Linked DNA regions of Homo sapiens: region 2 is reported to be linked to region 1. Evidence: microRNA targets listed by miRTarBase, many of them from high-throughput screens and not tested one by one. Region 1 holds a microRNA gene; the other region holds the end of a gene's coding sequence.
What was found. The annotated mature microRNA hsa-miR-6511b-5p reads CUGCAGGCAGAAGUGGGGCUGACA and lies in region 1 at 3,102-3,125, opposite strand. An mRNA with a match to its seed (bases 2 to 7 or 8) in the 3' UTR can be bound and repressed. Matches are read on the target gene's strand: a 7mer-m8 pairs with bases 2 to 8, a 7mer-A1 pairs with bases 2 to 7 and ends in A, and an 8mer does both.

Region 1 (4,335 bases):
GCCCTACGAGAAACGCCTTCCCCCCAAGAACAAGGCCAGGGGGCCGCGTGTGCCTCACCCGCTGCACGCACCGTCCAGCAGCGTATAGTTGAGCTGCAGATGCAGCACGGCCGCAGGGTTGCTGCTGTCCAGGGTGACCACAGCACCGACGGAGGCCTGGGGCTGGACCACAACGGAGTTGGCAGAGCTGCGGTGGCCCCGGGCAGCCCAGTCCGAGTTGTTGGGCACCTTCACGGTGATGGCGCGCTCTGAGGCCAGCCGCTCGATGGGGATCTGGGCGCCGGCCTGTGTCTGGAACGCCATCGAGGCCACCTTGGTGGAGACGGTGTAGTTGCTGATATAGCCAAAGGGAAAGGGATTGGAGTCCACCAGAAAGATGAGCTGCACCACGTCACTGAGGTTAGCCGGGGCCCTGCTGAAAGCCTAGGGGATGGAGAAGTGGCAGCCAGGCCCTGGGGCGCCGCCATAGCACAGCAGGCTCCGCGGGTCCGAGCGCTTGCCCTGGGCCACGATCTCCTCGCCCGCCAGTGTCAGGGGCTCCTCGTTGAGCACGCGGGAGCGCGTGAGGATGCGCATGAGGGCAGAGGTCAGGTTGTAGGCCTGGGACGCCACCATCCGCGATGGTGACTCGGCTCCCAGCTCTGAGCGCTGTGGTGCCCGCACGTCTGAGCTGGCCAGGTGGATGAGGTCTCCTGCAGACAGACGTGAGGTCAGTGCAGAGACAGGGAGGCAGAGGGAGGGTGGGGGCAGGCAAAAAGGGGGAGCCGGAGGGTGGGGGCTGGGAGAAAGGGGGAACCTGAGGGGGCAGAGAGCGAGGTGCAGGCAGAAGAAAGGGGGAAGCTGGAGAGAGAGTGGTGGAGGGGGGAGGGGGAAGGGGATGGGGATGAGGACGAAGATGAGGGGGATGATGGGGAGAGGGAGGAAAAAGGAAGGAAAAGGGTAGAGAAAAGAGAAAGGGGAGAAGAGGAGGAGCAGGGGGATAAGGGAGGGGAAGGGGGATAAGGGGATAAGGGAGGGGAAGGAGGATAAGGGGGATAAGAAAGATGAGGGGAATGGACAAAAGGACGGGGAGGATCGGGGGGGAAATGGAGAAAAGGGGAGAGAGATGGAGAAAAGGGATGGTAATAGGGAAGGGGGAGGGGGAGGAGAATGGGAATTGGGGGAGGGGGATAAGGATGGGAAGGGGGAGGGGAGGAAGGGGGAGGGGAGGGGCTAGGGGAGGGAGGGGCTGGGGGAGGAGTGGAGGGGCTCAGCGGGAGGAAGTGAGGGGAAGGTCTAGGGGAGGGGAGGAGGAGAAGGGCTAGCGGAGGGGAGGGGAGGGGGCAGGGGCTAGGGGAGGGGGGAGGGGCAAGGGGAGGGAGGGGGAGGGGAGGGGTTAGGGGAGGGAAGGGGCAGGGGAGGGGCTAGGGGAGGGAAGGGGGAGGGGAGGGGAGAGTGGAAGGCACAGAACAGCATCTTCTTAGTCCCTCCCCACATCTGGGCCCCTCTTTACACCCTGGGTCCCCCGAGAGGCACCCTGCGTTCACACAGGACAGCAGAAAGGCTGAGGCTACTGAAGCAGGTCAGAGACCGAGGAACGCCATGGCATGAAGGAGCCCAGGCTGGAGGCTCAGCTCCTCGGCCAAGCTGCCCGTCTGCCCTGGGGGGCTGAACCCAGTACCCTGGCAGGCATGCGGGGCGGGGTGAGCATGTGGGGCCATCCTACCATGCACTGGGCCAGCGCAGCAGCGATCTGCTGGATGTCATCCACAGTGTGGACCCTCAGGGACACCAGAGTCTCCGTGATGTTCTTGCGTATCTGGGCTCGGCGCTGCCGCTCGTGCTTGGGCTCTGCCGCCACGTCCAGGGCCCGCTCGTACTGGGGCAGGCAGGCGGCACAGCAAGCTGTCAGCAGGGCAGGAGACCGGCAGGAGGCCAGCAGATGCCCACGACTCCCGGGGTGCAGTTACGTGCTAGATGCTGTGTGATGTGGGCATTGACCCGCAACACTGAGCTGTTTCTTCATGGGCAAAACAGGGTAAGCACATGGGCCCTCCTGGGCGGGGGCTGCATTGTGGAAAGCAGACGCCGGAGAGGGCCCGGTGGGTGTGGCTGCTGGGAGCGGAACGTCGGGGTGCTGCTTCAGGGTCACTGGGATTTATCTCTGGGGCCCGGGATAAGCCCTCCGCAAAGCTCCAGGCAGGGGTACAGGTCTTGGTCCCCAGCACGCATGCAGCAGATGTGAGGTCCCCTGCCAGGCTGCACTCACCTCGTTCAGGACGGTGACCAGGGCCAGCGAGTACTCGATGACGTGCTGGGGATCGGCCTGCCGCAGCAGCCCCGGGAGCACACTAGCGGTGAGCCCGTGCAGCCAGACTGTGAGCCCCATTGCGCTGCCGTTGGGCTCTGGGAGGGTGATGGCCAGAGACCTACGAGCAGAGGGGGGTGGTGAGCAGGTGGCAGTCTCGGGGGCGCCCTCCCACGGCCTGGCTCACCTGTTGAGGGCGACCACAGCGGCTCCCAGCTGGTCCTGCACCACCACGGCCAGGCCCACCTCGAAGTGTGGCCTGAAACCCGGGGGCAGCACGGCTCCGTAGCCGGAGAGGCTGCCCTTGTAGACACAGAACTCCTCGCAGTGGCCCTGGCGACAGCGCTGCAGCAGCAGGGCGTACACCAGCGGGGCGCCAGCATCCTCCGCGTCATGCCAGCCTGAGGGACGGTCCCCATGGCATCACGGGAGGGCTCCGTGACGTCACAGTCGGGGGATCCCGCTGCTCCCCCTAAGCAGGCCTGTACTCACCCGTGCATTCGAAGTGCACCTTGGTGGTGAGGGCGTGCACAGCGCCCAGTGGGAAGAGGCGGCAAGAGCCCCCCAGCGGCGGGCGGTTGGGGGACAGGGGGATGGAGGCGCAGCCCTCCTCCTCGCCAGAGCGGCCCAGCACCGTCAGCGTGAAGGTGTATCCCTCGCCGTCCCGCAGCACGCCCCGCCGCAGCACCAGTCACATGCCTGCGCTGCCCGTGGATGTGGTGGTCTCATCCAGCACCAGTGTCTTGTTGCTGAACGTACGTGCAGCCCACCGCTGCAGGCAGAAGGGGTGGTGAGGGGGCGCAACCCTCTGCCCTGTCAGCCCCACTTCTGCCTGCAGGCCCCGTCCCCTCGGCCATGGGACCCATCCCCAGCCCGCCCACACCCCGCTCAACACTCACCCCTCGCTTGGAGCCGCTGCTGCAATTGAGGCAGCGGCCCTCCAGGTACACGTAGGAGCTGCGGCTCACTTCGTACACGGCCTGTGCCTTGCAGGACACACACTCCAAGGACACAATGGGCACCCGGCCACTGCGGATCAGCACCTGGCGTGGGAGTGGGGTTACCTCCAACACAGGTCTATTTGGCCTGCTGGAAGGTCTGGGGGACCCGTGGAGGATGCTGCTCCCAAACTCCAGGTTTCCCAGGGGCCTGGCCACTGCCGGTGAGCTCACCCCCTCCCAGGATACTCATCCGGTTTGCCACCTTCCAACCTGGGCGGCGGAAGGGCATACACAGGGCAGAGGACACTGGGGTGTGCGTTCTGGTGTACTGGAGCCAGCTGGACCCTGACAGGAGGCAGGCAATGCTCACTGAGGGCCCCTGGGGGGATGCGTGTGGGAACAGACGTATGTGGGGGTGTGAGGACCGCAGTTGCCACGTAGGCCTGACTCACAGACTCCTGCAGCCCTTAGCCAGGGCCTGGGTCAGGAGGCTGAGCCGGGATGGAACCTGCTCCCACACCCTCCCCTCAGACGACCCCTCTGGGCAGACCCCCAATCAGGCCCGTTGAGGAAAGCAGGGACTGGGGAACAGACACCCACTCTGGGGCACCAGCAGGCCCCGCCTGACAGCAGCAGGAGCAGCCACCACGGGCTCAGGGTCACCAAGCCTCCTGGCCGGTCCAGAGTGGGGAGCGTGAGGGTGAGAACCGGCCCACCACATCCAGCAACAGGGACATGGGCTGGGGACAGTGGCTGCCTCTGGGGTGGGAAGGGGCTCTTCCTCACTGTTGGTATTGCTGGGGGACTGTGTAGCTTTTGTCACTAGAGCATATGTGGCTTGAAGACTGTATGTGGAACTGTGGCAGGTTTGGAAGGAAGCAAAGCTGAAGCAGGCTGTCGTGTTACGTAGAATTTGCATCAGAAACAGAGAGGGAAGAGCGCGCGGCCTCCACCAGCACTAAAACACGGAAAACAGTAGATGAGCAGGGAGGTTGGGCTGTCCAAGGCAAGTGGCCGAGGGGCGGGCGGCACCCACCGTCTGGTTGGTGGCCTCCTCCTTGCGGCCGGCCTTCCACACGGTGAGGCTGAAGGTGTACTCCACGCCAG
Region 2 (3,000 bases), not on the chromosome of region 1:
AGATGTGAAAGAGCCTGAGAGCTTTCCTTTTGTGATTCTGGGTAACAAGATTGACATAAGCGAACGGCAGGTGTCTACAGAAGAAGCCCAAGCTTGGTGCAGGGACAACGGCGACTATCCTTATTTTGAAACAAGTGCAAAAGATGCCACAAATGTGGCAGCAGCCTTTGAGGAAGCGGTTCGAAGAGTTCTTGCTACCGAGGATAGGTCAGATCATTTGATTCAGACAGACACAGTCAATCTTCACCGAAAGCCCAAGCCTAGCTCATCTTGCTGTTGATTGTTAGATTGTTGATGCATTCTAACCAACTCACACATATACACAAAATCAACATGGGGATGGAGAAGAGAATTAGCGTTTGCAGCAGTGTATCATCTACTAATAAAATTAAACTAATGTTGCTGCTTCATTAGTTGGTGGGAGAAGGGACACATCCACTCTTGGAGGAATATATTTACTCAATAATGGCACCTTACATTTATAAATTGTAACAGTTGTCTAATAACGTTTCTTTAATTTAAATATGTAAGTTGCAGAGCTAATAAATGAAATGACCAAGACTTTAATTATAATAAAAATAAGAAACTTGACTATTCTAGAAGTTATACTTGGATTTTTTCCTGGGAAAATGGAGAACTACTTTTTATATGTGTATGTTTTTATGCAATTAGCATTGTATTCTTGGTTCAGGGAAATACTTTCCTAAAGCAATAATGTTAGATATTAAAGATTAAAATCTAATGTATTTGCAATGCATTGTTAATTTACTTCTTCATTCTCTTCAAAATGATTTAACCATTCCTGTTTTCATTCTACATACTAGAATTACTCTCACTAGTAATTACTCATCATTTGTGTGCCATTCATGCACCCCCACCCCCATAAATCATGTTCCACAGTCTCAGGCGGAGGGTGGGCCCCCAGTGGTACAAGAGTTGCTTCATACAGTCTGTAATACATCCAGCTAAATTCAAGTTGTCTATGAATGGAAAGCCTTTCCATAGATAGAGTTCAGTTTTAAGAAAAAGGCTAACTACTGAACTTGGAGAACAGACAAATGTGCATTTGATAACTGATGTAATAATTACAATGTACTGTGTGGAAGATACAAAATTACAATTCGATTAATGGACTAAATATTTTTGTTACTTTCTTGACCCTTGGGGAAAGTTTCTTAATTGAAGTTAAAACATTCCTTTATAACACAAGACACAAGCTGACTTTATCACTCTCAGAAGAAATACTAAGAAGGATTGTACTTTGTGAGAGGGTAAACGAAGACATCTTTATTCGGCAATGTATTTACTTAGTGTCTTCTCTATTACTGAACATTTAGTGATTTGCTCTCAAGGAGATTTTTTGTTAGAAAAAGACTTGTTGCAGTGATCAGACTTGATAAAGCAAATTGTGGTCTTTTGTGGATGAAGTTCATATGCTGTGTGGTTGGTGACTATCTGATTCTATGGAGGCTAACCAAAGCCTAGACTGAGTGTGGATGAGACCCTCAACTGGGGAGTGATGGGGATATCAAAGGACATGCTGGGTGAGAGGAGCTGACTGTCATGTAGGGAGTGAACCACTGCCCCCAGCAGAGATACAGTTCGGTTTTAAGAAAAAAGGCAAGGCCAGGCGCGGTGGCTCACGCCTGCAATCCCAACACTTTTGGAGGTCAAGAGGTCGACACCATCCTTGACAACATGGTGAACCCGGTCTCTACTAAAAATACAAAAATTAGTTGGGCATCGTGCCTGTAGTCCCAGCTTCTCGGAAGGCTGACGCAGGAGAATCACTTGAACCCGGAAGGTGGAGGTTGCAGTGAGCCGAGATCACATCACTGCACTCCAGCCTGGTGACAGTGAGACTCCACCTCAAAAAAAAAAAAAAAAAAAAAAAAAGCAAACTACTGAACTGGAGAACAGACAAACCTGCATTTGTTAACTGATGTAACAATTACAATGTGCTGTGTGGAAGATACAAAATTACAATTCATTAATGGACTAAATGTTTTTATTTTTCACCCTTGGGGAAAGTTTCCTAGTTGAAGTTAAAACATTCCTACTATTACTTGTCTTAGAAGAAAACCTTTTTATATTTCTGTACAAACTTTTCATTTTAATATTGTGACACCACCATGCAAGTTCTCACACAATATCCGTGTCTTGTAGAGTAGTGAAGTGTTTGTTAAGTAGAAAAACACACCAGTGTGGTACCCAGTGAAAGGTGGTGTCTGGAGAGTCAGTGGTTTCTGGAACTCTGGACTGTCAACCAGGAAGTGTTGAAGTGACTGAAAAATTAAAGCACATGGGTAATAGCATGGGCAGAGCAGAGACTGAGACGATCTATGTCCATGCCAAAGGAAGCATCCTAGTAAGTTTCTGGCTATGGCAAGATGACAAAACTCGGTGTACGTTTTATCTGGATCACTTTTGGAGCACTAAAGCAGATAACCAACTTTGTGCTAACATACATGTGCTCAGGAGAGCCTGATTTTAAGACTGACTTCACCCCATTGCTCTTGTGTTCCAGAACCTTCAAGGAACATCACCTACCAGATCCAAGCTTTGCCAGCTTAGCTTTCCTCATGATCAGCTCCTATCTATCTATCAATCAATCAGCTGTCAGTTCCACCCATGTGCCCAAGTGCTCTTCACACCTTCACACCTGCAATGCTTTCCTGTGCAGCCTACCTTGGAGGTCCCACTCAATGCTCCACTTCCCTTCCAGCTCCTTTGAAGACTCAGTCACACATGAAATTTGGCATTTAACTTTAGTAATATACTCACAAGTGTGTTACTAGTGCCTACCTCACCTTCACCAGCCTGGAGAAAAGGCTATTTTCAGGGTACCACTGTTGTGCAGCTGAGCCAAGTCTTCCTGCTCTCAATCAATCACCCTGCTGCTCTTGGCTGCCCTGCATCACAGCCCTCTGGATGATATGCTCATTGAGGGAGGGGCCAACTATATACAAAAAAATACACGTTTGCTGAAATTACTCCTAG

Region 2: the mRNA of RAB9A is a reported target of hsa-miR-6511b-5p. The part of its 3' UTR that is shown has no 7-base or 8-base seed match.

Annotation. Positions count from the first base shown.
Region 1 is chr16:15,131,016-15,135,350 of GRCh38, forward strand. MIR6511B2 (microRNA 6511b-2) reads right to left here and starts at 3,130; the gene lies at 3,060-3,130. It also overlaps a transcript of PDXDC1 not described here, the pseudogene PKD1P6-NPIPP1 and the pseudogene PKD1P6.
Region 2 is chrX:13,709,073-13,712,072 of GRCh38, forward strand. It overlaps RAB9A (RAB9A, member RAS oncogene family), which reads left to right. Exons shown (of 3, transcript NM_004251.5): 3 at 1-1,432. The coding sequence ends at 280. Among named protein-coding and RNA genes, the nearest start is that of RAB9A, 21 kb to the left of the region's middle.